7 linked regions of the Homo sapiens genome follow. The protein of the gene in region 3 purifies or fractionates together with the protein of the main gene of each other region. This does not show direct contact. Each region holds a gene or a part of one and is shown on either strand. Other genes may lie near its edges. The genes, in order: RPP30, PSMA5, RPP38, YBX2, RPL22, VASP and IGF2BP3.

Evidence for each region.
Region 1: the proteins of RPP38 (region 3) and RPP30 purify together in Homo sapiens (affinity purification with mass spectrometry; 3 studies listed by BioGRID and IntAct, with this or other methods). This does not show direct contact.
Region 2: the proteins of RPP38 (region 3) and PSMA5 fractionate together in Homo sapiens (co-fractionation; one large-scale study listed by BioGRID). This does not show direct contact.
Region 4: the proteins of RPP38 (region 3) and YBX2 purify together in Homo sapiens (co-immunoprecipitation; one large-scale study listed by IntAct). This does not show direct contact.
Region 5: the proteins of RPP38 (region 3) and RPL22 purify together in Homo sapiens (co-immunoprecipitation; one large-scale study listed by IntAct). This does not show direct contact.
Region 6: the proteins of RPP38 (region 3) and VASP fractionate together in Homo sapiens (co-fractionation; one large-scale study listed by BioGRID). This does not show direct contact.
Region 7: the proteins of RPP38 (region 3) and IGF2BP3 purify together in Homo sapiens (co-immunoprecipitation; one large-scale study listed by IntAct). This does not show direct contact.

What each region holds. Positions count from the first base shown.
Region 1 is NC_000010.11:90,881,974-90,885,473, reverse strand, and holds part of RPP30 (ribonuclease P protein subunit p30), read right to left. Parts: intron 1-3,500. UniProt on the Homo sapiens protein: Component of ribonuclease P, a ribonucleoprotein complex that generates mature tRNA molecules by cleaving their 5'-ends. Also a component of the MRP ribonuclease complex, which cleaves pre-rRNA sequences.
Region 2 is NC_000001.11:109,419,949-109,423,448, reverse strand, and holds part of PSMA5 (proteasome subunit alpha type-5), read left to right. Parts: intron 1-1,522; coding exon 1,523-1,589; intron 1,590-3,500. UniProt on the Homo sapiens protein: Component of the 20S core proteasome complex involved in the proteolytic degradation of most intracellular proteins. This complex plays numerous essential roles within the cell by associating with different regulatory particles.
Region 3 is NC_000010.11:15,100,355-15,102,555, reverse strand, and holds part of RPP38 (ribonuclease P protein subunit p38), read right to left. Parts: intron 339-2,201; 5' UTR 220-338; intron 1-219. UniProt on the Homo sapiens protein: Component of ribonuclease P, a ribonucleoprotein complex that generates mature tRNA molecules by cleaving their 5'-ends. Also a component of the MRP ribonuclease complex, which cleaves pre-rRNA sequences.
Region 4 is NC_000017.11:7,291,840-7,295,804, reverse strand, and holds the start of YBX2 (Y-box-binding protein 2), read left to right. Parts: upstream 1-1,165; 5' UTR 1,166-1,304; coding exon 1,305-1,575; intron 1,576-2,266; coding exon 2,267-2,330; intron 2,331-3,745; coding exon 3,746-3,779; intron 3,780-3,965. UniProt on the Homo sapiens protein: Major constituent of messenger ribonucleoprotein particles (mRNPs). Involved in the regulation of the stability and/or translation of germ cell mRNAs. Binds to Y-box consensus promoter element.
Region 5 is NC_000001.11:6,189,596-6,193,095, forward strand, and holds part of RPL22 (large ribosomal subunit protein eL22), read right to left. Parts: intron 3,460-3,500; coding exon 3,335-3,459; intron 1-3,334.
Region 6 is NC_000019.10:45,513,979-45,517,478, reverse strand, and holds part of VASP (vasodilator-stimulated phosphoprotein), read right to left. Parts: intron 1-3,500. UniProt on the Homo sapiens protein: Ena/VASP proteins are actin-associated proteins involved in a range of processes dependent on cytoskeleton remodeling and cell polarity such as axon guidance, lamellipodial and filopodial dynamics, platelet activation and cell migration.
Region 7 is NC_000007.14:23,341,492-23,344,991, forward strand, and holds part of IGF2BP3 (insulin-like growth factor 2 mRNA-binding protein 3), read right to left. Parts: intron 2,363-3,500; coding exon 2,227-2,362; intron 699-2,226; coding exon 573-698; intron 1-572. UniProt on the Homo sapiens protein: RNA-binding factor that may recruit target transcripts to cytoplasmic protein-RNA complexes (mRNPs). This transcript 'caging' into mRNPs allows mRNA transport and transient storage.

The sequences.
Region 1 (3,500 bases), about 76 Mb from region 3:
GAAGAAACTGACTATTCTAAAACCCAAGGAAAAAATAAGCCAAATGGAATGTATGCATAGTCCATTTATCCCACACACTATTTATTGAGCAACTCTGTGCCAAGAATTGTCCCAGGGCTGTGGCTCCTATCAAGTCTACTGAGTAGCTAAAGAAATATGAACACAGCACCTCATGACATTTGTTCAAATACTAATAGAAGGAATCTACATAAATAGTTAAAGCAGAGCTACTACAAAGCAAATGATAATGAATGCATTTTCTCAACTTTTAATTTCCCTTTCTGTTGTTTTAATTTTTGCTATGACTTGTTGAGTAATACTCTGCATTTTCTTCTCAAAGAGATTTGAAACTGTTTATGAAAACCACATACAAGATAAAATAAACAGATAAGAAAATCAGGATAAATGGAAAATCAGGGAAGAAAAATAAAGCTGGGAAAAGGTTACTAGTGTAGAGGGCAAGCCAGAAGACACTGCTGGAAGAAACATACCTGGCTCTGATTTTGCCATTATTTGATTTATAGTGATAAAAATATTTGGCTGTTATGTATTACATTAAAAACAAAGCTTACTGACAATGCTAGTGTGTACAGGCTTGACAGACAAATTCAAACTTCCAGGATGGCTACGCTGACAAACAACATCAGTGGCATGTACCAGGGGAAAGGGCAGAGTAAGGAAGAGTGGAGAAAATGACCTATAGGATTGGTGCCAACCTTCGGCAATGACAGGAATACCGTATCTTGCCCTTTTTCTTCAGAATCCCCACTTCAGTCACTCCTACTCCAACCCCAGGGCTTTAGGAAGTAGAGATCAGAGGCTGGCTAGCTTTAAGACAGTCATAGTAACTTAGTAAGCCTGGGAAGCAATGTTGTTTTGGCAGAAATACTTGGCTCATAAAGAATCTGCCCCATCCCAACTGCCACAGCTGTCCAACTCATAAAAGAGTCACTGAAAATTTAATAAGAGTGGATGAAGAAAAGCTCTGAATGATAGCTGAAACAAATTCAGCTCTGTTCACCATTTTTTATCGATCATACTGGCAAAGATAAAAAAGTTTGGTACTACCTTGCTGACATGAGAATGAATGAACAGGCACTCAAAAGGTCTTTAAATCAGTATAAGGTCTTGAAAAGCATTTTAGCAATGGCTACCAAAATTTTAAATGCACACACCAACAATTCTACTTATAGGTATGTAGTAGGTATAAGTGGAGTCTCCTATAGAGAAGTCTCTATAAGTGCAGAGACTCTAAAAATATATTACGTAGCTATATACCCTACAAAGGCTCAGGGGACATTAGTACAATGACAGTCATTGCAATACCAATCATGAAAGACTAGACACAATTAAACATCCCTCAATTTTACTTCAATTATGATCCCTTTATATGATGGAATATGCCAACTCATTAAAGGAAATGATGTACATCTCTAATGGATATTATGGAACAACCTCTAAGAAACTGTAAGGTAAAAGAAGCATGGTGTTAGGTAGGAAGGAAAGAGGAAGGGAGAAAGGGGAGAACAAAGGAAAAAAAGACGAGGTAAATAATATTTCTAAAAAGATACACAAAAACTATTACTAGTGGTTGCTTCTGGAAAAAATGGGGAAGGAATTTTAGGTGGAAGTAAGGCATACTTTTCAGTACCTTTGTACTGTTTAAATTAATCATTGTGAATGTAAATTATTTCTTCAGTTTAAAAAGGTGATTAATTCTTTAAAAGCCTGTTAAACATTCTCCCCAGAATAAAGCTAAATTAGGTTACTTTTTACTTACACATTGTTCCTTTCTTCCCTTTTCCTACATAAGAGTGGCCAATTAAACAATGGCTCTATGTTGGTTTAAGTACGTGCAAATACATGCATTATAATAAACTTTTAGTTACAAGGGACAGCTCCACATGGCTCCCTCTGACACTTCAACCTTAGAATGCCCCAAACTGAATTATTTTGTTATTTAGTTTTCTATTAACCAAAATGTTCAATCAATACTTTTAGATAACCACAAAATAAAAGTTAATGTTCACACTACAATGAAACGCTTTCTATATCATTTTAGAAGATTAAATTATGCCCAATAGAGCCTTGGGGTTAAGAATCTTATAATGGTTTTCTCTGAAAACTAGTAGGTTACATAATAATTCACATCAGTTGTCCATACCAATTTTTTTTTTTTTTTTTGGCCAGAGACTCCTATGACAATTTAAAGAAAACGTATTCCCATAAAAATGCACACATATATACACATCTTTGCCTCTATGGCACAAAAGGAATAGGACTGTAGGGGTTCATATTCCTCCCTGAATCCCTTTCAAAGGTATCAGTTTGATAAATTGTGAAGAGACAATCAGGCTTACCAAGGAAAAAGAGAGATGCCCATCAACAGTGGCACTCAACTTTAATGTGTACAAAACTCCCCTAAAGAATGTATCAAAAATGGAGACAACCAGGCCCTACCTCCATTGATTCATTAAGTATGGCCTAATGATCTGCATTTTAATAAATATCCCAGGTAATTCTAAAGCCAGTGGAGCCAGACCATACTGCAAGTAACACCAGGACACTCCCTTCCTCAAGACACTACAACAGTCCTCTGCAAAGGAAAGGCATGAATTTCAGGAGCAGGAAGAAAATAAAACTTTTATTTCCATTTACTTTTATTTTTTAAAAATAGAGACAGGGTCTCACTATGTTGCCCAGGCTGGTCTTGAACTCCTGGCCTCAAGTGGTCATCCTGCCTCGGCCTCCCAAAGTCCTGGAATTACAGGCACAAGGCACTGGATCCAGCCTCCATTTACTTTTTTCTTTGAGACGGAGTCTTGCTCTGTCATCCAGGTTGCAGTGCTGTGGTGCAATCTTGGCTCACTGCAAGCTCCGTCTCCCGGGTTCACACCATTCTCCTGCCTCAGCCTCCTGAGTAGCTGGGACTACAGGTGCCCGCCACCATGCCTGGCTAATTTTTTGAATTTTTAGTGGAGTCGGGGTTTCACCGTGTTAGCCAGGATGGCCTCTCGTGATCTGCCTGCCTCGGCCTCCCAAAGTGCTAGGATTACAGGCGTGAGCCACCATGCCTGGCCCATTTAATTTTTAATTCACTATCTTAAGATCTGTTTTGTGTGTATGTAGTTTTTATAAGGCACACTGGTATAATGAGAGATGCGAATAATTTATAAGAAACATATATATATTTGGAAGCAGGCTCAAAAATTTTTTAAACTGATAGGGTGCACAATCAAAGCAGGTTAGAGACCACTGGACTAAATAACCTGAATTCTCCTCAACCTGCTCAGCTGCTTTAAATCCTAAATGGGAATAATTAATTGGTCCAGAAGCTCCAGAAGCTTCTATGCAACTCTCTCTCTGTGTCATATTCCACAGCTGTCCCCCATCCCAAGGAGCCCTAACCAATGGACCCCCTCAAAATCTTTAATCTCTGCCTTATCTCCTTAAGTAGCTATGGAGAGGGAGTTTCTATGAGACATCTTCCGGATACTCTG
Region 2 (3,500 bases), on a different chromosome or scaffold from region 3:
GAGATTTGGAAGTAACTTGTGCTTAGCACTCTCCCAGGCTGGAGTGTAGTGGCACCATCTCGGCTCACTGCAACCTCCGCCTCCTGGGTTCAAGTGATTCTCATGCCTTAGCCTCTCAAGTAGCTGGGATTACAGGCACCTGCCACCACGCCCAGCTAATTTATGTGTTTTTAGTAGAGACGGGGTTTCACCTTGTTGGCCAGCCTGGTCTCGAACTCCTGACCTCAGGTGATCCGCCTGCCTCATCCTCCCAACGTGCTGGGATTACAGGCGTGAGCCACCACGCCAGGCCAAAAGCACTACTATATGACATGTTACCTGTTGTAAAGTCTGGACTCCATAAACCACGGATTGCAACCATCTCATTCATTTGTTCACATATTTTTTGTGTCCATTGTGTGCTCAAAGCTTTTATAGCTGAGACCATGATTGGTGCCTCTTCTCCGTAGGGATTTCCAGCACACTTGAGCAAGGAAAGGTGGAAAGTGTTAAGTGTTAAGGGGAAGTGTTTAGAGAGGAAAGCAGTCTGACATGTAAGTTATATAAATATTGAGTGAATGAACTAGGTTAGAATTAGGAACTACATGGATCTCAGTCTGTTAAGATAACAATAGTAATTCATACAAATAAGTAGAGAAATGTACCTGTGACTAACTTTTAGTAAAAAGTAATAATTAGGCCCAGGCACAGTGGTTCATGCCTGTAATCCCAGCATTTTGGGAGGCCGAGGCGGGTGGATCACGAGGTCAGGAGTTCAAGACCAGCCTGGCCAATATGGTGAAACCCCATCTCTACTAAAAATACAAAAATTAGCCGGGCGTGGTGGCATGCACCTGTAGTCTTAGCTGCTGGGGAGGCTGAGGCAGGATAACTGCTTGAACCCAGGAGGCGGAGGTTACAGTGAGCTGAGATCGCACCCGCCTGAGCGACAGAGCGAGACTCTGTCTCAAAAAAAAAAAAAAAAAAGTAATAACTGTGTTTTATAGAGATTGTCTGAATTAGGGGGAAAACTCTTCCTACTTGCTCCACGAGTCAATACCTGTTAGGAGACTATTACAAACGTTAGGTGAAAGGTAATGAGGGCATTGAGAATGGAAAGAAGAGTGATAACCCCAAGTATTAACGTCATATGCATGTTATGGGAAGAGGATAAGGAAAAATGCACATTTTCTTGGAAATTGGCTGATAGTTTTGAGGCATGAACTTACCAAAGGAACTGGTAAGTCTATTCAGAATGGATCCAAGTTGATTCAGGATTGAGGCAGAAAAGTCATTTGCTCTCATTTCATCAATTTGGGAAGACTTTCTGGGAGTGAGGCAGAAGTGTTCTATATATAGGTTCCATTGCCTTGAGAAACTGTTAATGTACAAAAAAATGCTACAGATTGTTGTGGGCGAAGTAGAGAATAATGACAATGTGCGTATTCTGTAGCTATCTGAGCTAGTTGTCAAGGAACTTGAATTCAGTGTCTACATGGCTAGTTTTTATGAGTATAATTAATAATTTTTTTTTAAATTATAGGGGCGTGAATACTTTTTCTCCCGAAGGAAGATTATTTCAAGTGGAATATGCCATTGAGGCTATCAAGGTATAGTAGCAAGTAGCATAGGTCCTGAAATTTCATGGCTACCTAACATTTTGCTGGCAGAACACTTGGAGTAAATGTGGTTTAACCATTCCTTTAGAAAATGTTCTTATATCCCTTTAAGCAACCACTGTTAACCATTTTTATAACAGTTTCAATCCTATTCCTAATATCTATTTTAAAACTTTTTGAGCAGTTAACTGCTTCATAATTATCTAAATAGCTTTTTCTCAGTGGGGGTGGAGGGACATATTTGTGCTTTTGATCCTCTTAGCTATAAAGAGAGGTACAGAAGTCCAGAATTAGCACCTGTATTACTTTTTCTGTTTTGTTTTCTTTAGCAAATCATGTATCTGACCACCTTTGTATTCTTTCTTTTTCTTTCTTTTTTTTTTTTTTTGAGATGGAGTCTCTCTCAGTTGCCCAGGCTGGAGTTCAGTGGCGTGATCTCAGCTTACTGCAACCTCCGCCCCTCGGGTTCAAGTGATTTTCCTGCCTCAGCCTCCCAGTACCACCAGGCTGGTCTCGAACCCCTGACCTCAAATGATTCGCCCATCTCAGCCTCCCAAAGTGCTGGGATTACAGGCGTGAGCCACCACGCACAGCCCACCTTTGTGTTCTTGTTGGTAAAGTCACCTTAGGGACTAAATAAGAGATTTGTTTTAGTGGTTTTTTAGAGACAGGGTCTCACTCTGTCACCCATGCTGGAGTACAGTGACACCATCTTAGCTCACTGCAGCTTCTAACTCCTGGGCTCAAGCTTTCCTCCCACCTTAACCTCCCTAGCAGCTAGGGTACAGATGTGTGCACCATGCCTGGCTAATTTTTTTTTTTTTTTTTTTTTGGTAGAGATGTGGTCTTGCTATGTTGCCCAAGTTGGTCTCAAACTCCTGGGCTCAAGTGATCCTCCTGCCTCAGCCTCTCAAAGTGTTGGGATTTACAGGTGTGAGCCACCACACCTGGCGTGGACTGGATAATTCTTTGTTGTGGAGGGCCATCTTGTACATTTTAGCATGTTTATCAATTCCTGGGTACTACCCATTAGGTGCCAGTAGCACTCTTTCAGTTGTGACCATCAAAAATGTCTCCAGACTTTGCCAAATGTCTGGTGGGGACAAAAGGGCCCCCAATTGAGAATCACTCTTCTAGATAAAAAGTATATATGAATTCTGTCCTACTCTGTTCAGTTAGGGATTCAAGATCAGTATACTATACATAAAACAATTAGAGAACAACTAAGTGCTAAATTAAGTTTTCTGGCAATGGTTTCTGATTATATATTTGTTTGATTTTTAAGGTATACATGCATGTAGTTTCAGAGTTAGAAGGCAAAGTAGTTCTATAAACCTTGTAACAAAAATAGCAATTCTTGAGGCCTGCATCATCTAGGTTCAGCTTTTCAGAGGCAACACTTTAAATTGTTTCAGCTGGTAATGTTCTAGGACTGTACCTCCATATCTCTATAACACAGATGTATGGTTTTTTTTTATTAGGCATTATCCATGGACTTTTCATTATGAAAGATGAAGATTTCTGCCCTAACCCCACACCCCTACTCCCCACCACACACAATTGTCTTCTGAGGTGGGGATAGGGTGACCCTCTCCATATATATCATGAATATCATAATTTTGTAAGATCATTAGTCAATAGTTACATTAGTATAACTAAATGCTTTTCACAGCTGAGCCATTTTGCATTTTATAATTATTTTTCTGTTTCTGCACAACATTGTTTTTCTTGGAGTTAATAATTCTCTTTTTAAAAATATTTGCTTAATTTAGGATGATCAATAATGCATTCCAAAGTCTCTCCAGGTTACATGTATCCTCTCAAAACATTCAGGCAAATTAAGTGTCCTATTAAGGATTCCTTTTTTTTTTTTTTTTTGAGACAGAGTCTTGCTCTGTCACC
Region 3 (2,201 bases):
TCTAACTTGTTACTGTTTTCCAAAATGCTATCTAGTTGGGCTTCCATGCATTCACTCAACAAATATTCTAGGCCTGGCACACTGGCTCATGCCTTCAGTCTCAGAATTTCGGGAGGCTGTGGTGGACAGATCACTTCAGCCCATGAGTTCGAGACCACTCTGAGCAAATGGAGAAACCCTCTACAAAAAATACATAAATTAGCTAAGTGTGAGGCGTACCTGTAGTCCCAGCTACTTGGGAGGCTGAGGTGGGAAGATCACTTGAGCCCAGGAGGTCAAGGATGCAGTGAGCGTGATTGTGCCACCACACTCCAGCCCAGTAACACATCTGACCCTGTCTGCAAAAAAAAAAAAAAAAAAATGATCTGAGCACCTCCAGTATGCAAGTGGTGTTCTAGGTCCTGGGGCTCACAGTAAGCAAGACCCGATGTCCACCCACGTAGAGCTCCCAATCTGCAAATACTCTGGTGGCCTCTGCCATTCACAACCAATCAGGTGTGATATTTTAAAGAACTGAACAGTCATCTCATGATTAAAACTTCAAATAACACTGTCACGTCCACTTTTGTAAGTCTCCCCACCTCCCAGGGCCCTAAATTTCTTGAATATCCTTCCTACAGCATTTGATACATATGCAGGCATACACTCCCTTTTTTTTGTTTTTTGAGACGGAGTTTTGCTCTTGTTGCCTAGGCTGGAGTGCAATGGCATGATCTCAGCTTATTGCAACCTCTGCCTCCCAGATTCAAGCGATTCTCCTGCCACAGCCTCCGGAGTAGCTGGGATTATAGGTGCCCAACACCACGCCTGGCTAATTTTTGTATTTTTAGTAGAGATGGGGTTCACCATGTTGGCCAGGCGGGTCTCGAACTCCTGACCTCAGGTGATTCACCCACCTCAGCTTCCCAGAGTGCTGGGATTACAGGAACGAGCCACCACTCCCGGCCAGTCCTCCTTTTTAGGGGGACCCCGAGCTGACTTCTCTGGCTGGCAATTCCATGAAGACTAGGGAAATGTAATGAAATTTAAAGATACTAATCCATTGAGGAAAAATGAGTAGAAGGATGCTTAATGGGGAAAATGTTATAAACTATTGGTCCAGAGGGCATATCCTTTTATCCTTCCCAGAGGCAACTACACACTCCCTTCTCTTCCCTCAGTTTTCTTCCCTTCCTTCCTGGGGCTCAGCTAGAATCACAGGGACCCACCTGGCAAAACTAAAGGAAGTTATATCCTTTGCATTTATACTACCACTTACTAGGCTGGCAGCTGATGTTGAAGGCAAGTGTGTCTGTGCAGTGTATCGCTGTATAAAGCACTCTCTCCATGTATTATTTGCTTCTTACAGCATTCCTATAGAATCCCCCAATGTGTGCATTAGGAAACTGACTCACTGCCTAAAGTCACAACTAGTTTTCCAAATCCAAGTTTTCTGTTCTTTCAATCCTTGCTACACCTCAAAAATAACCTGTGGCTTCTTAAAACATGCAGATGCTTGGTCCTCAACCCAGATCTACTGAATTGGAATCTTCAATAATAAGGCCTGGGCATCTGTGCTTATAAAAAGCTGCCCCAGGCCGGGTGCAGTGGCTCACGCCAGTAACCAAAGCACATTGGGAGCCCAAGGCGGGCGGATCATAAGGTCAGGAGTTCGAGACCAGCCTGGCCAATATGGCGAAATCCCGTCTCTACTAAAAAATACAAAAAAATTAGCCAGGCATGGTGGTGCCTGCCTGTAATCCCAGCTACTTGGAGGCTGAGGCAGGAGAATCTCTTGAATCCAGGAGACGGAGGTTGTAGTGAGTCAAGATCGCGCCACTGCATTCTAGCCTGGGCGACAGCAAGACTCCATATCAAAAAAAAAAAAAAAGTTGCCCTCGTGAATCTGATTCAGAGCCGGAATCAGGAACCACTGGTGTAGGACAGGGTGTTTCCACACTGGACAGCCCCGAGAAAGGGCCCCCTGAGCGCTATTGGTCTCTGATATTCTTCCCAGACACTTTCCCACAGAAAAGCCAAATTCAGCTCCTTAGGGTGAGAGATCACACCCTGGTCATCTCGGTACAGCAATCCTGGAGACTTCTGGGGCCTAAGCTGCTTCCTTCACGGTGGCCACACTGTGTCCCCTGACCCCATTATCTCTATGCTCCCCTAGAGCTCAGGAAATCAGGAAGAAAAGTGGCTCATCCAGATGCAATGCA
Region 4 (3,965 bases), on a different chromosome or scaffold from region 3:
TGGACACATTGATCAAAACTCAGCGAAGGCCGGGCACGGTGGCTTACCCTGTCATCCCAACACTTTGGGAGGCTGAGGCGGGCGGATCACCAGAGGTCAGGAGTTCGAGACCAGCCTGGCCAATATGGTGAAACCCCATCTCTACTAAAAATACAGAAATTAGCCAGGTTGTGGTGGCGCAAGCCTGTAATTCCAGGTACTCAGGAGGCTGAGGAGGGAGAATCGCTTGAACCCGGGAGGCAGAGGCTGCAGTGAGCCCAGATCGCGCACTGCGCTCCAGCCCGGGCGACAGAGGGAGACCTTGTGTCAAAACAAACAAACAAACAAACTCAGCGAAGAAGAATTGCGCATTGTACTACTTGTAAACCTTGTTTCCAATACAAACATAGGTAGGGGCAGGCCGGGAGCCACCTTGAGGTGGCTCAAGGCAGGAGAATCGCTTGAACCAGGGAGGCGGAGGTTGTAGCGAGCCGAGATCGCGCCACTGCACTCTAGTCTGGGCGACAGGGCGAGACCCTGTCTCAAAAAAAAAAAAAAAAAGAAAAGAAAAGAAAAAGAAAGAAAAAAGAAAAGTAGGGGGTCCTGGCTCATGGGAGCAAGTGTGAGCCGGGAAAACCATTCTGCTGCGCTTTCCAGCCTATCCTGCGGTTGGATCCCGCAGCCCCAGGGTGTGCAGGGCCGTCCTGTGGGGAGAGGGTGCCAAGGGCGGTGGTGGCCGGAAGGCGTCTGCACCTGGCAGCATACGGGCAAGGTCGGTCTCGAGGGTGGAGGCGAGCGGTGCTACTCACTGCCAGAACCGAGGCTGCAGATTCCCGCCCCTCGCTCAGGTCGTTAGGGGCAACCTTGGCACTGCGGCCCCGGCCCCGCCCTTCCCGCAGAGGCCAGGTGGCGGTTGGGGCGCGACCGGCCCGTTTGATTTCCCGCGGCCGGTGGAAAGGGGCGGAGGGGGGAGGGGAAAGGGGCCGCCGGCCAATGGGTTGGGCCGGGGGCCGTCACGTGGCGGCCAGGGGGCGGGGCCCAGGTGTACTTACTGGGCGGCTGGCGGGGGCCGGGGCCGCGGTGCGAAGTCCGGGAGGCGGGGTCGGCGTGCGGTCCGGGGGTGCTGCTGGGCTGGGATTGGCCCGTGGTCGGGAGGCGGGGTCTGCGCGAGCGGCGGCAGCGGGCTGCCATTGGCCTCGGCTCCGGGCCCGCTGCCGGCGTGTGGGCGAGGCTCGGGGCGCGAGGACCGAGCAGGGCGGTGGGTTCGCGAGCCGGGGGGAGGGGCCGGGGCGGTGGCGGCTGTGGCCGGTACTGGACCCGGCGGGATGAGCGAGGTGGAGGCGGCAGCGGGGGCTACAGCGGTCCCCGCGGCGACGGTGCCCGCGACGGCGGCAGGGGTGGTAGCGGTGGTGGTACCGGTGCCCGCAGGGGAGCCGCAGAAAGGCGGCGGGGCGGGCGGCGGGGGCGGAGCCGCCTCGGGCCCCGCTGCTGGGACCCCCTCGGCGCCGGGCTCCCGCACCCCTGGCAATCCGGCGACGGCGGTCTCGGGAACCCCCGCCCCCCCGGCCCGGAGTCAGGCGGACAAGCCGGTGCTGGGTGAGGGGCAGGCGCGCACAGGGCGGCTCTGAGGGGTCGGCGGGCTGGGGGAGGGGCAGTGTGGAGCCCGGCAGGATCCGGAAAACCAAAGGCGGCCTGGCCCGCAGGCCCAGAGCGCTAACTGGGCTGGGAGCTGCGCACCAAAGTGGATTCCCCTGGTGGGAAATCCTGCCGTACCTTCCTGGGAGAGAGGGCGGGGCCGGCAGGTTCAGCTAAGGTCTTGGGGTGGAGAATAAAGCCCCAGGGTCCGGCCACGCCCCCGGGCGGGACACAGTGCCTAGTTGACTGGGTTAGAACTAGGCAAACCTCTGAGCCTGGCAAGCAGGTGCACTGGGGACCCTTGCATTGGGAGGGCTAGAAAAACCCTCAGTTATGACCTGGGGGCGGCACTTTGCAGACCAGGTGAGTACCCAGTTCTAGGTGAAGGGGCTGGATTTGTAGGATGTGGGGAACGTGACTTAGAGTTGGAAGGCTTTTTGAAAGCCTGAGTCCCTGTGTGGGTGATTTCATTTGGTGGACTAGGGTAGGAATACCTTGAAGCTACTAGTGAAACCTGGTTGGCTTGAAGGTAACCTGAATAGGTAATAAGGCAGTAGGCTAGATTTTTTTTTGTTTTGGAGTGTCTCAAAACTGAGTTCAACTCCATCTCTTCCCCCCATCTCACTGTCCCCACTGCATCTCTGCCTGGCAGCAATCCAAGTCCTGGGCACTGTCAAATGGTTCAACGTCCGGAATGGTTACGGATTCATCAACAGGTATCCAAGGAACCCAGGGCGGGGGTGGAATGGGTGTCTTCCCAGCTGGCCTGTGGGACTGGACACCCGCCCAACCTCATCGACCCCTGCGGAGGCACATGGTTGCAATGTCCAGCTGATGCTGGTTGAAAGCCTTTAACCGCAGCACAAATGTGTGCTTCGTGACAAGAGGAAGCCTCCTCCGCATCTTCAAGGGTAGCGGAGGATTAATGATTCAGGAACTTGGCAAACCTGGCTCTGACCCTGCCAGCTTCTCATCTCACCTTCTGGAATTGCTTCATTACTTTTACTCTGACATGCCTTTGGGGCAGAATGTATTATAGGGTTCTCTGTGCCTCAGGGCCCCCGGCTGGAATCCTCAACTGATTTCCTGTTATGGCAGCACTCACAACTCAACTCCCTTAAAGAGCTGTGGCTCATTCGAGCCCTCCACCTGTTGGGACTGAGGCTGACAGTGGGGGTCAGGAGGAAGGAGCCAGAGGCTGCTGCTTTCCTTCAGTAGGCAGCCCCACCCCTCAGCACCGGGAGAGGCTGTGGCAGTGGATTCTGAGCAGAGCCAGGTCTCCCCCAGTGGGCCCTTCCCCAGCCCAGGCATCCTGCCCGGCCTGGCTCTCCTGGGAGGCCCTAGTTCCCTCTTAGCAGGCTGACCTTTGTGCAGATCCAAGTGCTTTAAAGCTAAAACGTTTGTTCTGGGGAAGGGTCCCTGTCTAATTCTGGAAATGGCAGACTGGGTCGGGGGCAGAGTGCCTCCAGGAAAACTTTTCCTTTCTCCCCTCCCCCCACCCACTGGGGTTCTTATGATAGAGAATGGGTGAATGTTTTCTTCTCTCTCACCCTTGGTCCCACGCGTGTTGAGAGTGGTCCTGACTCTGGGATTCACCTCCAGGCTGAGGATGAGAATAAAGTTTGGCAGCTGTTTAGAGCAAGTTCCTGACACATTGTTCCCTTCTCAAACTTGTTCTGCCCCTCTGGCCCCATCTGCACTTTCTGCCTCCTTGACTATAGAAGGAAGAAGACTGGAATTTTCCAACCCTGATGGGGGTTGGGGGAGGGGGTGTTGGCCAGGGACAGTTGCACCCAGCGCTGGCAGGTTGTAAGGCTAGCCTGGGGTGGAAGGTGGAGTCCCGGCAGGGGCAGAGCTGTCTGAGGTTCCTCAAGGTGCCTTTGCCTCCCCAGCCTGCCCTTTCCTTGTGAAGTCCAGGTTTGGCACTGAGGTTTTAGGTGTATCTCTCTTTACACCAGCTTCTGGGGGCCCTGCTGGCTCTCCCTCCCATTCCCCAGGCCATGTCCACCCCTAACTGGAATGCTGGAGAGGATGGGCCCACTGAGCTTAGACTGGGCATCTAGGGGGACCTCAGTGAGGAGCTGAGGGCTTTGTTGAAGTCCCTTCCTTAACGACCCATCCTGTTCTGCAGGAATGACACCAAGGAAGATGTCTTTGTTCACCAGGTAAGAGCTAGGTTAGCTTTCTGAGGGGAAGAACCGGCCGTCTTTGAAGGCCTTTGCTGTAATCCTTAGCAGTGCGCTCCGCCATGTTTCTCTGGCTCTTCTTCACAACGGCCCATCCGCCTTGGGTGCCTGTGTCAACCACCATTAGCCGCACTTGTGCTGGGTTACTAAACGTCCGTCAGAATT
Region 5 (3,500 bases), on a different chromosome or scaffold from region 3:
GGGAAAAAAATCAGGTTAAAAAAAAAAAAAAAACCCTGTACAGGCCAGGCAGGGTGCCTCATGCCTGTAATCCCAGCACTTTGGGAGGCCGAGGCGGGTGGATCACCTGAGGTCAGGAGTTCCAGACCAGCCTGGCCAACATGATGAAACCCCCTCTCTACTAAAAATACAAAAAATTAACCGGGCGTGGTGGCAGGCGCCTGTAATCCCAGCTACTCAGGAGGCTGAGGCAGGAGAATTGCTTGAACCTGGGAGGCGGAGGTTTCAGTGAGCTGAAATCGCGCCATTGCACTCCAGCCTAGACAAGAAGATCAAAACTCGTTTTCAAAAATATAAATAAATAAAAACCCTGTACAAATTCAGAGACAGAAAAAGTTCTAGATTCGGGACACCTTGAACCTTTCAGGAAAATTAACTATTATCATCAAGAAAGGAAAGCTGTAATAGATGATTAAGGCACCTTCCCTACTCCACTGGATAAAGAACAGAAAGTTTGTGAAAACGCAAGTGACGCATGTCAGGAGATACCCTCACCCTGGTAAACAGGTCACAGAAAGGTAGCAGAATCTTCCCCAAGGGCTCTGCTACAGCCCAGCAGGCCGGACGCTTTGTACCCCCACCAGAAGCCCCATTCTCACTGCTTCCCAGGCAGACTGTGAGGACTTCACTTAAGCTTCAAAGTCTCTTCTTCACGGACATAGCTAAACATAAAAGCATTAACTACAACCAATTTGTACTAACATACCTTAAAATTTCCCACCACTTGATTTAGTATGTTGGTTTTCTTTTGTTTGTTTTTTTTGAGACAGAGTTTCGCTCTTGTTGCCCAGGCTGGAGTGCAATGGTGCTATCTTGGCTCACCGCAACCTCCGCCTCCCTGGTTCAAGCAATTCTCCTGCCTCAGCCTACCCAGTAGCTGGGATTACAGGCATGCACCACCACACCCAGCTAATTTTGTATTTTTAGTAGAAACGGAGTTTCTCCATGTTGGTCAGCTGGTCTAGAACTCCTGACCTCAGGTGATCCTCTGACCTCGGCCTCCCAAAGTGCTGGGATTTAGTATGATTAAAAGCTCCTAACAGGCCACAGCCCCAGGCTAGGAGCTGAGTATATGCATATCCAATTCTTCAGCAACTGGTAAAGTATTTTAACCTCATCCTCAAAAACCAACACATAACAGAGGAGGGAACTAGCAAATTAATGTCTCCATTTTGAAATGAAAGAAAATGGGCCCCCAGGAATTAACTAGAGTGGACTCTGTCTAAACTGAGGTCTTCAGATTCCTTGTTCAGTGCCAAAGTAGCACTTACAAGGGAAACAACTGGAATTCAAAAGGAAAGCTCTTGGTCAGACACAGTGGTTCATGCCTGTAATCCCAGCACTTTTGGGAGGCCAAGGCAGGTGGATCACCTGAGGTCAGGAGTTCAAGACCAGTCTGGCCAACACGGCGAAACCCCGTATCTACTAAAAATACAATAATTAGGCCGGGCGCGGTGGCTCACGCCTGTAATCCCAGCACTTTGGGAGGCCAAAGTGGGTGGATTACGAGGTCAGGAGATCGAGACCAGCCTGGCCAACATGGTGAAACCCTGTCTCTACTAAAAAACAAAAAAAATTAGCCACGAGTGGTGGCAGACACCTGTAATCCCAGCTACTCAGGAGGCTGAGGTAGGAGAATCGCTTGAACCCAGAAGCCGGAGGTTGCAGTGAGCCAAGATCACGCCACTGCACTCCAGCCTGGGTGACAGAGTGAGACTCCGTCTCAAAAAAAAAAAAAAAAAAAAAAAAGAGGCCGGGCGCAGTGGCTCACGCCTGTAATCCCAGCACTCTGGGAGGCCGAGGCGGGCGGATCACGAGGTCAGGAGATCGAGACCATCCTGGCTAACACGGTGAAACCCCGTCTCTACTAAAAATACAAAAAAAAAAAAAATTAGCCAGGCGCAGTGGCAGGCGCCTGTAGTCCCAGCTACTCGGGAGGCTGAGGCAGGAGAATGGCGTGAACCCGGGAGGCAGAGCTTGCAGTGAGCCGAGATCTCGCCACTGCACTCCAGCCTGGGCAACAAAGCGAGACTCTGTCTCCAAAAAAAAAAAAAAAGAAATACAAGAATTAGCTGGGTGTGGGCCAGGCGCAGTGGCTCATGCCTATAATCCTTGTACTTTGGGAGGCTGAGGCAGACGAATCACCTGAAGTTAAGAGTTCGAGACCAGCCTGGCCAACATGGCAAAACTCTGTCTCTACTAAAAATACGAAAAATTAGCCAGGCGTGGTGGCACATGCCTGCAATTCCAAAAACTCGGGAAGCTGAGGCAGGAGAATCGCTTGAACCTGGGAGGCAGAGGTTGCAGTGAGCCAAGATGGCGCCACTGCACTCCAGCCTGGGCAACAGAGCAAGACTCGGTTTCAAAAAAAAAAAAAAAAAGTAAGCTCTTACTGTGATCTAGAGACAGGAGGCAATTTTTTTTTTTTTAATTGAGATAGGGTCTCACTGTGTCACCCAGGCTGGCCTGCAGTGGCACAATCACAGCTCATTACAACCCTAACCTGCTGGGCTCAAGCCATCCTCCCACTTCAGCTCCCCAAGTGGCTGGACTACAGGCACATGTCACCATGCCCAGCTAATTTTAACTCTTGTAGAGATGGGGGTCTCACTATGTTGCCCAGGCTGGTCTCAAACTCCTGGGCTCAAGCAATACTCCTGTATCACCCTCCCAAAGTGCTGGGATTACAAGCATAAGCCACTGTGCCCAGCCAAGAATATTTTTGAGAAAACAGTCTTGAAAGCAAGTCTGAGTACCTTACTGTTTAAAATACTTTAGCCTGGCCGGGCATGGTGGCTCAGGCCTATAATCCCAGCACTTTGGGAAGCCAAGGCGGGTGGATCACTTGAGGGGAGGAATTTGAGAGCAGCCTGGCCAACATGGTGAAACCCCCGTTTCTACTAAAAATACAAAAATTATCCGGGCATGGTGGCAGGTGCCTGTAGTCTCAGCTACTCAGGAGGCTGAGGCAGGACAACTGCTTGAACCCAGGAGGCGGAGGCTGCAGTGAGCCGAGATCGCGCCATTGCACAACAGCCTGGGCGATGGAGTGAGACTCCAGCTCAAAAAAAAATAAAACACTTTAGCCTGTGAAAGACAAAATTTTAAAACCACCAAAAGTTGACTATTGTTAACAACCATAATAGCATTCATCCACTGCCTCCTGCACTGAGCATAGTTCCAGAAATTAACAGATGCAAACCAATCACTCTGCGGGTGCCCCCACTCCCATGCAGGGAAAAGGCGGGCTGGGCACTGGGTGCACGCAGGCCACACACACACTTCCCTCCTGTACCTTTTGGAGAAAGGCACCTCGGATGTCACGGTGATCTTGCTCTTGCTCCTTTCGATGGTCACCACCCCTCCACCAAGGTTCCCAGCTTTTCCGTTCACTTTGATCCTTTCTTGCAAAAACTGCTCCTGTAGAAATCATTAAATTGACCAATGAAGTGACAAGTTCA
Region 6 (3,500 bases), on a different chromosome or scaffold from region 3:
GCAAACACACAAACGAGATGCAAGAGACAGACGCAGAGAGAGGTGGGAAAGGGAGAGTCGGGTTGACAAAGAGGAGAGACAGACTGAAGGCAGACAGACAGATGAACAGATGGGGGAGGGGTGGGGAAAAAGGATGGGCAGACAGGGGACCTGGAGGAAGAGGCAGACACAGAAAGAGATAAAGATGGTCTTGGCGTGGTGTCTCACACCTGTAATCCCAGCACTTTGGAGGTTGAGGCAGGAGGATCACTTGAGCCCAAGCATTTCAGAGCAGCCTGGGCAACATAGTGAGACCCCATCTCTAATAATAATAATTATTATTATTATTTTTATTTTTGTTTTTGAGACAGAGTCTTGCTCTCTGTCACCCAGGTTGGAATGTGGCCTCGACCTCCTGAGCTCAAGCGATCCTCCCACTTCAGCCTCCCAAGTAGCTGGGACTACAAGCATGCACCACCACACCCGACTAATCTTTTTTTTTTTTTTTTTTTTTTTGAGACAGAGTCTTACTCTGTCACCCGGGCTGTCCTCGGCTCACCGCAACCTCTGCCTCCCAGGTTCAAGCCATTCTCCGCCTCAGCCTCCTGAGTAGCTGGAATCACAGGCATGCACCACCAAGCCCAGCTAATTTTTTGTATTTTTAGTAGAGACGAGGTTTCACCATGTTGGCCAGACTGGTCTCGAACTCCTGGGCTCAAGTGATCCATTTGCCTCAGCCCCACAAAGTGCTGGGATTACAGGGGTGAGCCACCACACCCAGTCCACAAAAAAACTTTTTTAATGAAAAATAAAAAACACAACACAACAAAACTAATAAGAAGGAAAAGATAAAGATGGAGAGACAGGCTGAGGGGTGTAAGAGGCCGAGGCCAATGCCAGTGGGGGGATGCGGGTTAGCAGAGCAGAGGGCAGGAGGGAAGACAGAGGGGCCAGAAGGAGGCCAAGAGCCCAGAGCTGCACTAGGGACCAGCCCCTGCCTGACCTCAGTTTCCCTATCTCTACGCACCCCCCTCCACCACTGCCTGCTCAGGAAGAAGCTGAGGCTTGGGAGGGGAAGTGTGAGGCCTGCAGCAGGTTGGGGACCCATCCCAGACCTCTGAGCTCTTCCTCCAAAGGGACTTCCCGCTGCCCACCCCTCGCCTGGCTCCCCAGGGCACTAGCGGCCATTCCCCAGATACTCCCTGCTCTGTGTCTGGCCTATATTGGGTGGGGCTGGGGATGAAGACACAGCAGTGACCCAGACAGCTCCGGCACCACCCTCCTGGGGCTCACAGTCCAGTGTGGGAGACACAGCTGTCCCCAGACGGTACCAACCCAGGTTTAGGACCAAGGAGCCCAGGGTCTGGGGGTACCCTGAAGGAACGCCTGCCCCAGCCTGGAGAGTCAGGCAGGACTTCCTGGAAAAGGCAACGTCTGACTTAGCCTGGGTGGGAGGTGTCAGTAAACTGGTGCAGAGTTCAGGAGCTGATATCCCCAGACCTGGGTTCAAATCCCCACTGAGCCACCTACTTCATGTGACTCAGGCACATGACCTTCCCACTCAAGACCTCTTCTTGCCTGTGAACTGGGAAAATGACAGTCCCCACCTCCAGGGCAGTGGGGGAGGGGCACATGAATCTGGGCACCTAAAGGGCTTGGTACAGCCGGGTGTGGTGGCTCACGCCTGTAATTACAGCATGTTGGGAAGCTGAGGTGAATGGATCGCTTGAGCTCAGGTGTTCGAGACCAGCCTGGGCAACATGGTGAAATCCCGTCTCTACAAAAACGTACAAAGATTAGCTGGGCGTGGTGGTGTGCACCTGTAGTCTGAGCTACTCAGGAGGCTGACGCAGGAGAATCGCTTGAACCCAGGAGGTGGAGGCCGCAGTGAGCTGAGATCACGCCATTGCACTCCAGCCTGGGCGACAGAGTGAAACTCTGTTTCAAAAAAAAGAAAAAAAGCTAAGTGCTTGGTACAGCGTCCAGCACACGCCGAGAGCTCAGTAACTGTCAACATCCCTCTCATGGGCACCACTGGGGCCCGGGACAGCTACAACCCTCGGGACCCTCCCACCAGCCCCTCTGGGAGGTTCAATCCCCTCTCCCCCAGTGAGGAAACTCAGGCCTAGACAGGAACTCAAACAGGAAGTGACTTGCCCAAGGTCACACAGGGGAAGGGGAAGCACTGGTCTCCTCCCCACCCCACCCACACCAGGCTTTTTCCTGAAATGGGGAAGTTGGTGGTCAGAGGTTTCCGGGGACAGAAATTAGACACCCCCCGCAAAGCCTCTGTCTCTAGGAGGGCTGGGGGCTGGGTGTGACACTGATGCTGGGAAGTCAGGGCAGGGAAAGTCCCTAGGCAGACTCAGCTGTGGGTAGGGACCTGGGGTAGGGACCCTCAAATTTACCTAATTGTGCCATCTCCCTCTTACTAGGCATTTCAGGTGGATCAGGGGCCTTAAGCCCCTCCCCCAAAGTCACTCATTTTATTCTCACTGCAGCTTATCCAGAGAGCCACTCATTCTAATTTTGCAGGTGAGGACTAGAGGCCCAGAGAGGTTGAGTGACTTGCCCACAGTCACACAGCTACTGAGGAATAGAGTGAAGATGTGAATTCAGGCTTCCAAGCCTTAACCACCGGGAACTGTGTGGGCCCCACCCAAACACCAGGTGCCCTTTCCAGACAAACACAGCCTCGGGGGCTGTTTCTGGCTCCTGCTGCCCCTGGCAAGGCAGGGTTAAGGCCTCGGCCTCACCCACACCTGCCACCCACACCCAGGGCCGACTCTGGCCAGGAGCCCGGGGCTGCTGCTGCCCCGCCCTGGCTGCACTTTGCTCTCCCAGGCAGCCCTGCCCTACTGAGGCTCTGGACTGGCCGGAGAACAGGGCGCCTGCTGGGTGACCAAGGGGTGGTCTTGCCCCTCTCCAGGGAACACTATACCCATTGTAACAGAAGGATCCTGTTAAAACACGAGGTGGGGCGGGGAACGGTGGCTCATGCCTGTAATCCCAGCACTTTGAGAGGCCGAGGCGGGAGGATTGCTTTAGTCCAGAAGTTCAAGACCAGCCTGGGCAACACAGTGAGACCCCCCATCTCTAAAAAACAAAACAAACTAACAAAAACCTACAAGGTGGGATGTCTCTTCTTCTTCTTGAAGGCTCCAGGCTCCTACGGAATCAATGCCAAGTTCTCTCCAGGGCCTCCGTGATCTGTGTGTCCTCAGATCTCATTTCTTCCCGCTCCACTGTCCCTTGGGGACTCTGTTCCAGACCCTAGACCTCCTACCCCCATGCTGCTCTTCCCGCAGGCCAGACACATTCCTGCCTCGGGCCTGTGTGCTGCTTCTTCCTCAGGCCTAGCCTCTCCCCACTTTCAGGTCTCTCCTTAGATGTCACCCCTTCCAAGAAGCCGTCCCTCACTCCCTTAGCTGGAAACGCTTCTCTCCTTTTCATCCCCTGCTGCACATTTCATAGCAGTGACCCCTGCCCAACACAATATTTGTCTGTCTCCGCTGCCAAAA
Region 7 (3,500 bases), on a different chromosome or scaffold from region 3:
CCTGTCTCTACTAAAAATACAAAAAAAGTAGCCGGGTGTGGTGTGGCACACACCTGTAATCCCAGTTACTCAGGAGGCTGAGGCATGAGAATCATTTGAACCCGGGAGGTGAAGGTTGCAGTGAGTCAAGATTGTGCCACTGCATTCCAGCCTGGGCGAAAGAGTGGGACTGTGTCTCCAAAAACTTTTAAATAACCACCATGGCACATGTATACCTATGTAACAAACCTGCACATTCTGCACATGTATCCGAGAACTTAGAATAAAAAAAAAAGAAAAAAGAAAAAAGAAAAAAAATTTTTTTAAATAAGAAAAACAATTACTAAGTTTCTTCCCCTGCCACCTCAAAGTCCCAAACTTTTGTTGTGATATTTGAAAACACATGTTGACAACCCCGCTATCCAAAAACTGCAAAATAATCCCATGTCTACTCCACAAAGGGCCAAATAAGAAGGCTCCATTAGCAAGAACTGGAGAGCATATGTTGGCATCTAAACAGATGATCACGCGGGGACTAGGTTTACATTAAGATTTTGCCCAATCACAAAGAAAGCCAAGGCCAGTTATCTTACCTCAAACTGCGGGTAGGGAGGAGTCATGGCTGAAGGGGGCCCTGAGGTGGGAGGTGGCATCCCTGAAGTGGGTGGGAACAGACCCAAGGCGTTCAGATTTAATCCAGGAATTAAATGTGCTTGAAGCTGCAACAGTAAAAAGGCCCCTTAATTTGACAATTAAAAGAATCAAGGGAAAGTGAGCATTTTTAAGTGACAGTATTCAAACTGATCTCTTGTCTAATAAAGAAATGATTGTATAACTCAAAGCAGATGTTCCATGGGACTCTACTTGAGTACATCGTTTACATCTGTTTATATCCCTTGGTATTTTAAAATCTGTGTGCTGGTTTGCCCCCTCCTTGGTCCACAGCTGCATTAAGATATCTCAAGGGAAGCTTTCCTTTCCCTTATGACTAGCCCACAGGACTTAGACAAAACCGTATTCTGCATGCTGTGGGCAAACTAAATATAGACAAAAAGCAATGTATCAGAGTTGAAGAGGTAATCAAGTAAGATTGGTTCATTGAAAAGCAAACCAGCTATTAAGAGATCTTTACTTGCTGGGTAAAACTTAGCAACCATGGGTCTAGAGGCCTCAAAGTTGAGCCCTCTGGAAATCAGGACCCATCCCCATGTAACTACTGCAAGTAAACATATCACTGGAATGGAAATAGGAGCCAGAAAGGGTATTTTAATTTGTTTAATTTTATAAGGGTTGAGGACGTAATGTAGACGGTGGAAGGGAGATTTGAGTGTACTTGAAAATCTTTTTAAAAGGCCTAAGGGGGTTAGATTTAATCCCAGTTGATTCCAGAACATTTGGAGCCAAGCAGTGAGAATTGAAGCAGGTTGGCAAGAAGTCACGTGGGGTGTAAAATGGCTAGCATTCTAGGCTCTTCTCACAAACGCAGTATTTGCACATTTCCCTCGTCTCAGGTTTTGTGTTTCAGATGACTGGCCCAATTGAAAAAAAATTATTTTTTAAAGTCATTTACTTTAAAATTTAAGACAGGCTTTTGAAGTATTCCATTTTCAGCACCATTTCACTGATTAAGGAATGTCAGCAATTTGCTTTAATAGCCTCAGATGCACTACACAGATTGTTTTATCAATTGAAATTCTTGTATCTCCAAGGTTTATATGGCTAACCAAGTTTTAAACCTGTAATCTTAACATTAACTTTTATATGCATTATATCTATTGTAATCCTAATAAGAATGCAAGGTAGGCAGTAGTCCCATTTTACAGATGAGTAAACTGAGCCTCAGAGAGACTGAGTAAATCATATAAGAGAAGAGAGCTGCAGCTCATAAATGGTTCAGCTGTGATTCAAATCCAGTTCATGTAACATTTCTTCTATATTAAACTCTCTCAAATTAACATTGTAAGAGAGGTACTATATTAACCTTTGTAGGTAGACACTAGCCTTACTTCAGACAGAAGGAAGCTAAGGCTCAAAGACTGAATAATTTGCTAAAGTCACAGAGACAGCAAAGCTTAATGTCAAAGCCAGTATCTTCCCTACTATCCCAGGGTACTTGCTGAGGTGCTAAAAATCAACTAGAACTACTTCTAGTGATAATGCCACAAAAGAATTCAATATTAATGCAGTTAAAAACATTGTTTTAACTATTTGTTAAAATAAAGACATGCCCTTCATAACAAAACTAACATTCATAGAAGCAATATCATTTTCATAAGACTCCCTGATTTTCTTCATGATCTCCTCCTCAGCTTTGGCACATGTCTCAACATTGCCTTTAACTGTAATAGTGCGTTCTGGATTATACAGCGTCAATTCCTGCAATCTGCAGAATGAAAAAGAAGGGAAAGAAAAAGAATGAAAATTGGAGGAAGACAGCTAATAATTCAGCCACAGACGGCAATTAAAAACAAACTGTGGAGCCTGGTAATATGTAAAAGTGGGTGGTAAAACATGATGGGAAATGAGTAAGCCCCAAAAGACGTAAATCCGAAACTGTAAAGCTGCAAGAGAGAAGAAAATATTTGCCCTCCCATTTTCTCAACTAACGATTACTGGATACATATAGTTCAATCAAGTCCATATTTTAAATAAAGCTTACTTCTCAACCGCTTAAAGTTGAACCATTTTCACAATTGAACAGTGAATTAAAAAATGACTGGAAAGATGTATAGTTTTTGAGGAAACCAAATACCCTAAGTACATAACCTTTCATAAGTATGTTCCTAGTCTGTATTAACCAATTCTAGGCATAATTGGCATTCTCGTGCAATTGCATTTTCTGGGTCACCAAGCAAGGAGAAAGCATGGAAATATTCCAAAAACACAAGCCAGAATTCCTGTGTCTAAACTTAGTTTTTACCAGTTTCTTTAGAATTTAGATTGAAGTAGGCTGGAGGAATATCAATCCATCTTGACTAAAATTTAAAATGGTTCACCGATGCCATTTAGATAACAAAAACGTTAGATAGTGGCAGAAATATTCAGAAACTCCCTGCGGGACCTAGGTCCTGCTGAACCTTCAAAAGCCACTGAATATCATACCTGAAAACACCTAAGCCTATGCTGGTCAACAGCCTTGAGAGGAAAAGCAATGGGAGACATGTGCCATGGAAAACAGAACTAAGTACATAAATTGAGAGGATATGGATTATTGGTACAAATCTCCTTCATCTTCCTGAAGTTCTCATTTTCACTACTAGTATAATGTCACAGGCTAACCTTGAGCCAGATGAATGGGAAGTTATTCCTTAACATTTTCCTCAAACTTGTTAAAAATGTAAACATTTGTATAATGAAGACTATTTCTCTTAGACTACTTTAAAAAGAAGTCTATAATTCTAATTCAGTCTCAACCTGGCCCTGCCAAGCATTTTGTATTACAGTTTTAAAAATAGCTGCTTCTAGAATAACTTTTGAGATTTTTTTCTTTTAAAACTCTCCCCTTTCTGGGGGTAAATTTA